Homo sapiens: one gene and its partners. The protein of the gene in region 2 purifies or fractionates together with the protein of the main gene of each other region. This does not show direct contact. Each region holds a gene or a part of one and is shown on either strand. Other genes may lie near its edges. The genes, in order: THUMPD3, CARS1 and MCFD2.

Region 1 (3,651 bases), on a different chromosome or scaffold from region 2:
TCAACACATGGCAATAGAATCCTTGGCAACCCTCTTGAGGGGGTAAGCACCCTGTACTCCAAGCCATTCCTGATGGTCAGGGGTGAATATCTGACCAAAACAATGTCCATCAGATCCTCTCTTCCAGGAATTTGGAACAAAGAGCTAAAAGCCCTAGGCAGTGTGGGTTGGTCGTTTGGAATTGGAAATACATAAATTTAGATGAGAAAGCATGTAGATGAGAAGAGACAAGAGTCCACAGGCTCTAAGGGGAGATAAAAATGGCTGCCTACATTTCTGGTGGTTTTCCAAGATGTGGTTCCTACCCTTCTTGAGAACCAACATTCAGTTTTTCTGTAGAATCCCCAAGATTTCTCTTTATCTTTCCAATAAACCCCTCTCTGGCACAATTATCACTTTTTTATCCTAAACTTGATTACTTAGGTTTTAAATATTTGCACCCAAAATAACACCCTCTCTGTATCCCTGGTTTCTACCATATGCCTGGCAGTAGATAATGCATATTTGTTAAATTAATGAAGACTAGAAGATTTTCCTTTATCAAATGGGCCCAATTTTCTATTATCGTCATTGAATTAATATGTTAGGAAGATAAAAGATTGGAAGAGAAGGAATACAGTCGTGTACTGCATGACAATCTTCCAATCAATGGTGGACCAAATATATGAATGCAGTAATTATAATACCATATTTTGCCCTATCCTTTCTATGTTTAGATACACAAATACCACTGCGTTACAACTGACTACAATATTCAGTACAATAACATGCTGTACAGGTTTGTAGCCTAGGAGCAATAGGAGATACCACATAGCCCAGGTGTGTAGTAGGCTACACCATCTAGATTTGTGTAGGTACACTCCATGAGGTTCGCACAATGATGAAATTGCGTGATGACACATTTTTCAGAATGTATCCCTGTCATTAAGTGATGCATGACTGGACTTAACTACCAGGACATACCAGGCACTGTATATAATAGGTATTTTGCATATGCTTCAGCATTTAATCCTCACTAATAATCCTTTAAGTCTCACATCAAATCCATTTTGCCATCTGGAAAACAGAAGCTTTAGAGAAAATAAACATTTTCAAGTGGTGGAAAGAAGCACCCAATAAAAGAGAGAAGGGCAAAGGAGAAGGAAAGATAGGTCGTGTACTCTGAAAAGCAAAAAATTCTAGGATGATTCCTGAGTTGCTGTGAGTATAAAGCTTAAAAATATAAGTAAAAGCTCTTTCTGTTCATTTACACGTTATACACATAAAAATCTCTGCTTTCATCTTTTTCACTGCACAGAAATGAAACAGCAAAATTTACTCTTATCTCCCAACACACATATCCTTGCTAAACAGAAATGTGGTAACCTCATTCAAGAGGCAGGTGAAAACTATTACTCTCATTTTAAAATCAAGAAAACCGGGCGCGGTGGCTTACACCTGTAATCCCAGCACTTTGGGAGGCCGAGGCGGGTGGATCACCTGAGGTCAGGTATTTGAGACCAGCCTCGCCAACATAGTGAAATGTCGTCTCTATTAAAAAAATACAAAAATTATCTGGGCGTGGTGGCAGGCACCTGTAATCCCAGCTATTCGGCTGAGACAGGAGAATCGCTTGAACCCGGGAGGCAGAGGTTACAGTGAGCTGAGATCTCGCCACTGCAGTCCAGTCTGGGCGACAGAGTGAGACTTTGTCTCAAAAAAAGAAATAAAGAAAACTGAGCCACCTATTAAGCAGTATTTTCAGATCACAAGGAGTCAATATTGGATAGAAGGGAAAGAAATAGATCATTAGCTTTCCATTCTATTCTTTATCCACTCTATTCCAACACAGTACCTCAAACACACATACACACAAATCAGTATTTTGAAGGGAACATTCAAACCAAGGTGCCACTTTAAGCTGGATGGCAAACTCATTTTCTTACCTGAGCATCCCATAGGCAAGAGTTGATCTAAGAGTTGTAGGTCCAAAATGTGTTATATTTCTTCGGTGGAGACTCTCTTCAGTCAATGCAATGCCCACAATGACTTCATTATCATGGATGTTCAAAAGAACCTATAGCAAAGTGGAACAAGACAAAATAGTTTTAGGATTGTTCAAACTGCGCTTAGTAATAAGACTTTTCTGACCTGGGCCGGTTCACCCCTCCTTAGGCAACCTGTTGGTCCCCTACTCCTGGGAGGTCACCATATTGATGCCAAACTTAGTGCAGACACCTGATTGGCATAGCGCACCACAGCCCAGAACTGTCTAAAAAGTTAAGACATTTAAAAAATACATATTAAAAAACCTCTAAGCCTTCAAAATATGTTTGTGTTATAAAAATTGGGGTGAAATCTGGTTGTAGCCAATAAACATAGTGAATTAAAAGAAAATAATAGATATTAAAATGAACGAAAAAAACTATATACTATATGATTTCATTTATATGAAGTTCAAAAATTGGCAAAACGAATTTTTGGTGGTAGCAGTCAGATTAGTGATTGCCTTGAGTGGGTACTGACTGGGAAAGGGCAAGGGGAGCCCGAGGTACTGGAAATAGTTTGTATCTCTATCTGGATGCTGTTTACACATCGTGTATATAAGTAAAAACTTACTGAAAACTTAAGATTTGTGTACTTAAGGGGTGCAAAGTGTATCTCAACAAAAAAGTTTTAAAAATTGGTAAAGTCTCAAATAAAAAGTCTTATTACACTGAGTGCAGTGGCACAGGCCCACAGTCCCAGCTACTCGGGAGGCTGAGGTGGGAGGACAGCCTGAGCCTGGGAGGTCAAGGCTTTAGTGAGCCATGATTGCACCACTGCACTCCAGTCTGGGTGATACAGCGAGACCCTGTCTCAAAAGTGAACTAAACTAAACCAAAATGTTCCCCAATCTTTCACTGAAAGACTTCCTGAGCTTAACCACAGCAGAAGCACAGCTGATACTCATACAGCACTTCCTAATGCAAAGCACTATTCTACACATTTTACATACATGGCCTCATCTCATATTCACATCCCCTAAGCTAGGTATTATTCCCTTTATAAATGAGGATACTGAGGCACAAAGACAGCTCCTCAGGAATTCCCTTTTTGAGACAGGGTCTCACTCTGTCGCCCAGGATTGAGTGCAGTGGCATGATCACAGATCACTGTGGCCTGGACTTCCTGGGCTCAAGCAATCTCTTACTTCAGCCTCCCAAGTACCTGGGACTATAGGTGTCTGTCATCATACTCAGCTAATTTTTTTTTTATTTTTTGTAGAGACAGGGTCTCCCTATGTCGCCTAGGCTGGTCTAGAACTCCTGGCCTGAAACAATCCTCCAATCTTGACCTCCCAAAGTGCTGGGATTACAGGTGTGTGTCACCACACCCAGCCTCCTCTGGGATTTAAACCAATGCAGCACGGCTCCAGAAACTCCTCTGAATCACCTTGCTAACTTTTAGACATCACTGTTCTGGTTAACCTATTCATTTTATTTTTTAAAATATTTATTTTATTTTTAGTGGAGACAGGGTCTCACTATTTTGCCCAGGCTGGTCTCAAATTCTTGGGCTCAAGCGATCTGCCTGCCAAGGCCTCCCAAAGTACTGGAATTACAGGTGTGAGCCACGTATTCATTTGCAAGGCAGTGTATGAGGAAAAAAAGGAATGGGGAATTAGACTCC
Region 2 (3,651 bases):
AGAAAAGGTAAACGTCTAAGGTGACGAGCATCCTAACTACCCCGATCATCACACACGGTGTGCATGTATTAAGACATCACATGTTCCCCATAAATTGCATAATTATTATATATCCATTAAAAAAACACATGTCATGGTCTTAGAGCTGCACAATGTTGAGTGCAGAAAACTCCTAAAATTCCTTCAGGTGAAAAAGCACTGTTCCCAAGAGTCTGAGGGGTGGGCTCAGCGCAGCCCCCGTGGCCTGCAAAGTCAACACAACCCAGGCTGGGCCAGGAGGGAGAGCCCACATGCTCTCAGGCATGCCCTCCTCACCTTCCCCTTCTTGAAGGGCTTTCTGATCTCCAACGGCCTCAGGCACCAGCTTCCCATAGGAGTGCTTCTCGCTAGAAGCAAACTTCGCTGTATCAAAGTAGACAGACCCATTGGAGACATAGCTGGAAAACAGAAAAGGAATTGGGTGGGTGCATCTAACAGACCCGAAAGTGTGTCAGCAGGATGACAGTAACAAAATAAAGCAGGGCTATAAAAGTGCGAAATCTGTGGCCTATCTACTCTCTGTGGTGGCCACTGAAAACCGTATCAGCTGTTTGGACTGAGTGGGACACCAGGGCCCATCCCGCTGCGGAGGCAGCCTGCCTGCCCTGGGCAGCTCGTCCCTCTGCCTGGCGTCCTGTGACCCATGCAGCTCCCACCCTGCCTTGCTCAGGGCTGCTGCCGTCCTCATTCTTGTGTGGCCTCACCTTTCCCTGAATGTCCACACTCTACCCATTAGCTTAGCTGAGGCTCTTGGCCTCCAAGAAGCACTCTAGATTACTCCAGTCTGGAATGACCTGTCCTCTCTGAGCTTCGGCTTGCCCATGCCTCTCGGCTTGGCACAGGCTCTTATGCTGCCCCACAGTAGTTTGTGTGAAGTGGGGAGAGAAGCAGCGCTACTGCTTAAGAGTCTGCCCCGTTCCTGGCACTGTCACAACCTCTTGTTTCTCTTTCATCCAGCCTGTGTGGTTCCTGTGGGAGGGAAGCAATCTGAGGCTGGACACAGTGGGTCTCTGGGAGCAGGCGCACGGTACAGTGCTGAGCACTACTGTGGGCGGCAAGCCACCCAGGTGCCGAGGCAAGAGACCGAGGGCACGAGCTGTTCCAGTATAATAAAATATAAAATAAGAATAGTTATACCAGATATAGATCTTAGATATGATTATATATGAATATCATTAATCATTAGTTTGTAGCAATTACTCTTTATTCCAATATTATAATAATCCTCGCTCTATAATCATAATCTAGGAAAAACCAGGCCATACAGAGATAGCAGCTGAGGGGACATAGTGAGGAGTGACCAGAAGACAAGAGTGTGAACCTCCTGTTATGCCCGGACACGGCCACCAGAAGGGTTCCTTGGTCTAGTGGTAACGCCAGCGTCTGGGAGGATGCCCGTTGCCAAGCGGACTGTGGTCTAGCGGTAGCGTAAGTGTCAAGGAAAAACACCCGCTACTTAGCAGACCGGGAAAGGGAGTCTCCCTTGCCCCGCGGGAGTCTGGAGAAGACTCTGCTCCTCCACCTCTTGTGGAGGGCCTGACATGAGTCAGGCTCGCCCGCAGTTATCCGGAGGCCTAACCGTCTCCCTGTGATGCTGTGCTTCAGCGGTCACGCTCCTAGTCCTCCTTCATGTTCCATCCTGTACACCTGGCTCTACCTTCTAGATAGCAGTAGCAAATTAGTGAAAGTACTAAAAGTCTCTGATATGCAGAAATAATGGCGTAAGCTGCCTCTCTCTGTCTCCTCTCTCTCTCTGCCTTGGCTGCCAGGCAGGGAAGGGCCCCCTGTCCAGTGGACACGTGACCCACGTGGCCTTACCTATCATTGAAGATGGCTCACTCTCCTTAACCTACCCCTTTGTCTTGTATCCAATAAATATCAGTGCAGCCTGGCATTCGGGGCCACTACCGGTCTCCGCGTCTTGGTGGTAGTGGTCCCCCGGGCCCAGCTGTCTTCTCTTTTATCTCTTTGTCTTGTGTCTTTATTTCTACAATCTCTCATCTCCACACATGGGGAGAAAAACCCACCGACCCTGTGGGGCTGGTCCCTACACACTACAGACAGATAACCGGGTTCCTGTCTGCATTTCCATTTGTTGGCCATTTCTGAAAATGCTTACTTTGGAGATTGAGACAATACGGGCCAGGGAAGTGTATGATGGATTTGCCAACAAAAAGTCACTAAAATCATAGCCAAGCGATAGATGCTGATGAAATGCATCCTCCTTCGGGATATGACACCAGGACTAGCACTCTCAAAATGTCTACGCAATGGCACTGATGTCTGTGAAGGCCCAGCAGTATTCGCACTCACCATTATGCAGCTCTGGGGCCCCATGACTGATGGTCTTGGCTGCCGAGCTTCCCAGCAGATTCTGGGTTAGGTTCTCACCATGGCCCCCAGGACAGTGCAGACCCATGCTCCTCAGCCCCTGGGTGGGCCCAGAGTTGTAGGAGGAAGTCTGCTGGGACTTCTAGCTACGCAGCCCCAGAACACCTGCTCCTCTGCTTCCCAAACTCAGGCTCAGAGCTGGGGAGCTCCTCCCTGTGCGATGTTCTGCAGCCCTTCCCTCCCTAGGGAAGGCCCTTGTGCTTACCCGTAACCGTTGTCCACAATCTTCTGGACAAAGTTCACAATTTCTGGCACATACTCACTAACCCGGGTTAAGACATCTGGAGGGAGAACCTGTGCAAGACATGAGAATGTCCTGGGATTTTCCCTTCTGAAAACCACGCGCTCCATAAAAACGTTCCCAATTCATAAAACGAAAAGCCCATTATGCCCCTCAACTCAAGTTCAATGTTGACTTGGCCGCTTAATTGAGCTGGCCTTGCCAAAACAGGAATTTAGAAATCAGGGCCCTTAGCGCAAGAGAGCCAGCACAAGACAATCGTGACACTTACATTCAGAGCTTCCATGTCTCTGTGGAAGTCCCCCTCCCAGAACTTGGGCAGCTTGGAGAAGATGGAATTGTCAGTGACATCACAGCCAAGTGTAGAATCCAGCCAGTCAGAGAGCAAATCCTTGGCTTCTTCCAGCAACACCTGAAGAGAAAGAAACAAAAATCCAGCAGCGGGCCACACACTTCACATGAGAACATCTCGTGCAGCTGGTGTGAGCCCATCAGTGCCCTGAATTCAAAGGTGCTGACCTTGACCTGTGAAGAGCCACCGTCTCCTAGGGAGACTGTGATGCTTACACAACTGGCTCGGCAGGGACAAATACAAGACTCTACAAATGGGCAGGTCTCACATGAACTCAGAGGAGCAAAGCCAAGGGGACTGTGGGTGCAGAGGCAAAAAGAGGTGGGAGGGCCGAGGTGGGCCTGGTGAGCATGTGCAGCCTACCTGGGCCGTGCAGGGCAGGGTTATGGGCAGAGGCTGGGCAGGAGCACACAGTGTGTCACCTACAGCACAACCCCTTGGTGCATTCAGGAAAAGATTCATGACGGACACAGCCAGAGGTTAGGAGAGATAGGCAGGGCACTGGTCCCAGAGGTCTCAAAAGCCCCATCTCCCTGACGCCATTGACTGAAGATGCCATCCCCACTTGACACACCATGGAATGGGAGTAAAAACCACCAATCCCAGCAAAACATGGCACCTATGTGAA
Region 3 (3,651 bases), on a different chromosome or scaffold from region 2:
AGAGAGAATATGTATTATTGAGTCAATTTATCATAATCCAGTTTAGAAATTACATTTGCCAGTTAAAAGAAGGCCCTTCAAAATAGGCTTTTGCTTATTTGTTTCATTATGGCTCATTCTTCTTTAATTGGAAAAGTGCCAGTCCTCCTGAGGGTCAGCTCTGTGCACAAATTTGCCTGATAAAATAGAAACAGTGACGAATTGGACAACAAGTTGGCATCAAAACAAGAGGAAGAAGGCACTGCCGATGAGCAGAACCTGTTATGATCTTTGAGGAGAAAGTATTTCCCATGCTCCAAGAGCAGGGTTAGTGGGCTGAGGCTGTTCACATCCTTGGCTGGTTCTTCCTTTGCCACATCTCCCACATTCACCATTCCCTCTCCTGTCACCACCACTATCCTCATCTGCCAGGACTGCTGACCCCTAATTCCTCCGCCTAACACTAGTCTCTCCTCATGTCCTTCAGTCTGTCTCCCACAACCAAGGATCTTCCCTAAACAATGCCATTCTCCTGTGCAAAATCATTCATGCTCCCTGCTGCCTTCAAACCTCACCTGCACTCCTAGCAGCGAATGTAATCCCACTCACCTGGCTAACTTTGCCTTGCTTCCTCTCTATAGAGGGCAGTGTGGCAGAAGGGGAATGACATTAAATGTGGAGGCACGAGGATTTTTTTTTTTTTTTTTTTTTTTTTTTTGAGACAGGGTCTGACTCTGTCACCCAGGCTGGAGTCCAGTAGCACGATCACAGCTCACTGCAGCCTCGACCTCCCAGGCTCAGGTGTTCCTCCCCACTACCCTCCCACCCCGTCACCCCAGCAGCTGGGATTACAGGCAAGCATCACTATGTCCAGCTAATTTTTGTAGAGACGGGATATCACCATGCTGCCCAGGTTGGTCTTGAACTCCTGGGCTCAAGCGATCCTCCTGCCTCAACCTCCCAAAGTGCTGGGATAATAGGCATGAGCCACTGTGCTTAGCCTGGCACAAGATCTTGATTTCAGTGTCTTCACCTAGAAAATGGGAGGGTTTTGTTTGTTTTTTGTTTTCTGAGACAGGATCTCGCTCTATTGCCCAGGCTGGAATTCAGTGGCAACATCGCAGCTTGCCACAGCCTCAACCTCTCAGGTTCAAGTGATCCTCCTACTTCAGCATCATGAGTAGCTGGGACTACAGGCATGCACCACTGAAAATGGAAGTATTAACAATGCCTGCCACTGCCTACTCAAGATGTTGCAAAGATCCAACGAGATCTCTAACCTACTTGAAAGGGCTTCAGAAACTTTGGAGCACCATACAGTATCACACAAGCCCTCAATTACTGCCACGTCCCTGAATCCCTTGGTGTCAATTCACCATTAAACAACTTCTCCCTTGCTCTGCAGTTTGAATACGGTCTGTCTTTTAGGCACTGATTCTCATACTCTGGTGTGTAACAGAAATGCCTGTAGCACTTAAAGATACAAATGCCCAGCCCTGGGACTTCTGCCTCAGCAAGTTATCCTTTGCGGGAAGGATCGTTGGACAGAAAGAGGCAGAACACAGAAGAGAAAGAAGCAGCAGCACCTTTTTTTTTCTTTTCTTTTTTTCTCTTTTTGAGACAAGGCCTCACTCTGTTGCCCAGGCTGAAGTGCGGTGGCATGATTATGGCTCACTATAGCCTCGACATCCTGGACTCAAGCAATCCTCCCACCTTAGCCTCCTGAGTACGTAGAACTACGGGCATGCACTACCAGGCCTGGCTAATTTTTTAATTTTTGTTTTGTTTGTTTTGTAGAGACAGGGTCTCACTATATTGCCAAGGCTGGTCTTGAACTCCTGGCTCAAGTGATCCTTCCACTTTGGCCTCCCAAAGTGCTGGGATTACAGATGCGAGCCATCATGCCCAGTGGAGAAGCAGCACTCTTGGCACATAAGGACAACACAAGTCAACAAGACTGGGGACCAAATTAACAAAGGGAAGCCTTTCTGTGATACAGTCCCCCAAGCCACTGCCAGACCTACCTCCTTATGGACATGAGTGATGGCTGTGGAGAGTTCTAAGCCATCAAGCAAATTATTGCCATCATAATCATGCATTTTGAAGTAATGGAGCTGCAATTCTTGTGGCGACATCTCCGCCTCTGGTTTGTTGATGACACCTTCTAGATGCTCCATGATATGCCTAAAAATCAACAGTCAGGTTCAGGCCAATTGACAGATACTGGGATCATGCTGAAATCTTAAGGACTCTGAAAAGTTCAAGATCTTAAACTTCCTCCAGCTCAGAAAAACAAACACCAGCAGTGGCAGACCACACTCAAGGATTACACAGAGATAGACAAGGCCTTGAGAGGAGCAGGAAAAGTCAAATAGACCATCTGTTATGCTGGCAGGATTAGGGTATTCTTTCCTCTTTATTATTAGAATTTTGTTATAACATTTTCAGGCCATCAATTTAAAAATATGTCCTTTAAAACTTTTTTTTTTTTTTGAGACAGGGTCTCACTCTGCCACCCAGGCTGGAGTGCAGGAGCGTGATCTTGGCTCATTGTAGCCTCAACTTCCCAAGCTCAGTTGATTCTCCCACTTCAGCCCCCCAAGTAGCTGGGACCATAGGCATGTACTGCCACATCCAGCTAATTTTTTGCAATTTTTTAGTAGAGACAGGTTTTCCCTATATTGCCTAGGCTGGTCTCGAATTCCTGGGCTCAAGTAATCCACCTGCCTCAGCCTCCCAAAGCACTGGGATTACAGGTGTGAGCCACTGCACCCAGCCTTAAAAACAAAGGATAACCGAGTATAATGCGTGAGGCTAACTGGCCCAAGACAAAAGCTGCAACAAATGATTCAATGTTTGAATGTGTTGATTTAAAAAAGGTCTTGTTATAGTCAAGAAACCTTAGCTATTTTCTGGATTCTGCTACTATGACTGTGTATGTGTACCTGTGTGTCTATTTGTATGTGTGTGTGTCTGTCTGTGGTGAAAAAAAGGAGAGACCGGATTCAGACAAGTAATGTGCCCCATTTGGGCCTAAAGATCTTCCACCTGTGATACAATGATGAAAAAAGAATACCTGACTTATAGGTGGCAATAAGGAATAAGAATCATCCTTGAAGAATGTCAAGGAGCCATAGAAACAGGAAGAAGGAAAGGAGGACTGAGCATGCCCTTGCCGCTGGCTCAGCTGCAGATGATGGGGAGGCCACTGGACCACAGCCCGGGCTGAATACGTACTCTTGGTCGTGCACTGTGTTCTTATCCAGGCCCATGCTGCCGGGTTGGGAGAAGCTGGCTGCAGGCTCCTCAGCCCTGGCGCCTGGGGCACAAAAGGCCCAGAGCAGGCCACACAGGAAGGGGGTTCTGAGCAGGGATCTCATGGTCATCAATATCTGTGAGATGGGAAACACAGAAGAGGAAGGCAGAGCATCAGAGCAAAGGTTTCGTTCAGGGCTTGACATGGTATGATCCTGGGAAACCTGATGAAGCAGTAAGGTTAGGAAGAGAGCTTGTCAAACACGGCCCAATGCCAGCTCTGCTTTGAGACTGTGGGATGACCCTGGGCACTCCAAGTCACTCAAATGGCAGGGGAAGGCTCACGAGGTTTCCTGAAGTGCCTGCAGAGTGCCAAGCAACACGTGAAAGCTTGAAGGGACTGGAAGATTATTCTTG

The links.
Region 1: the proteins of CARS1 (region 2) and THUMPD3 fractionate together in Homo sapiens (co-fractionation; one large-scale study listed by BioGRID). This does not show direct contact.
Region 3: the proteins of CARS1 (region 2) and MCFD2 fractionate together in Homo sapiens (co-fractionation; one large-scale study listed by BioGRID). This does not show direct contact.

What each region holds. Positions count from the first base shown.
Region 1 is NC_000003.12:9,372,921-9,376,571, reverse strand, and holds part of THUMPD3 (tRNA (guanine(6)-N(2))-methyltransferase THUMP3), read right to left. Parts: intron 2,057-3,651; coding exon 1,926-2,056; intron 1-1,925. UniProt on the Homo sapiens protein: Catalytic subunit of the THUMPD3-TRM112 methyltransferase complex, that specifically mediates the S-adenosyl-L-methionine-dependent N(2)-methylation of guanosine nucleotide at position 6 (m2G6) in tRNAs.
Region 2 is NC_000011.10:3,026,361-3,030,011, forward strand, and holds part of CARS1 (cysteine--tRNA ligase, cytoplasmic), read right to left. Parts: exon of another isoform or gene 3,084-3,651; coding exon 2,943-3,083; intron 2,725-2,942; coding exon 2,636-2,724; intron 438-2,635; coding exon 316-437; intron 1-315. UniProt on the Homo sapiens protein: Catalyzes the ATP-dependent ligation of cysteine to tRNA(Cys).
Region 3 is NC_000002.12:46,905,807-46,909,457, forward strand, and holds part of MCFD2 (multiple coagulation factor deficiency protein 2 isoform A precursor), read right to left. Parts: intron 3,372-3,651; 5' UTR 3,366-3,371; coding exon 3,217-3,365; intron 2,873-3,216; exon of another isoform or gene 2,164-2,872; coding exon 2,004-2,163; exon of another isoform or gene 1,078-2,003; intron 1-1,077. UniProt on the Homo sapiens protein: The MCFD2-LMAN1 complex forms a specific cargo receptor for the ER-to-Golgi transport of selected proteins. Plays a role in the secretion of coagulation factors.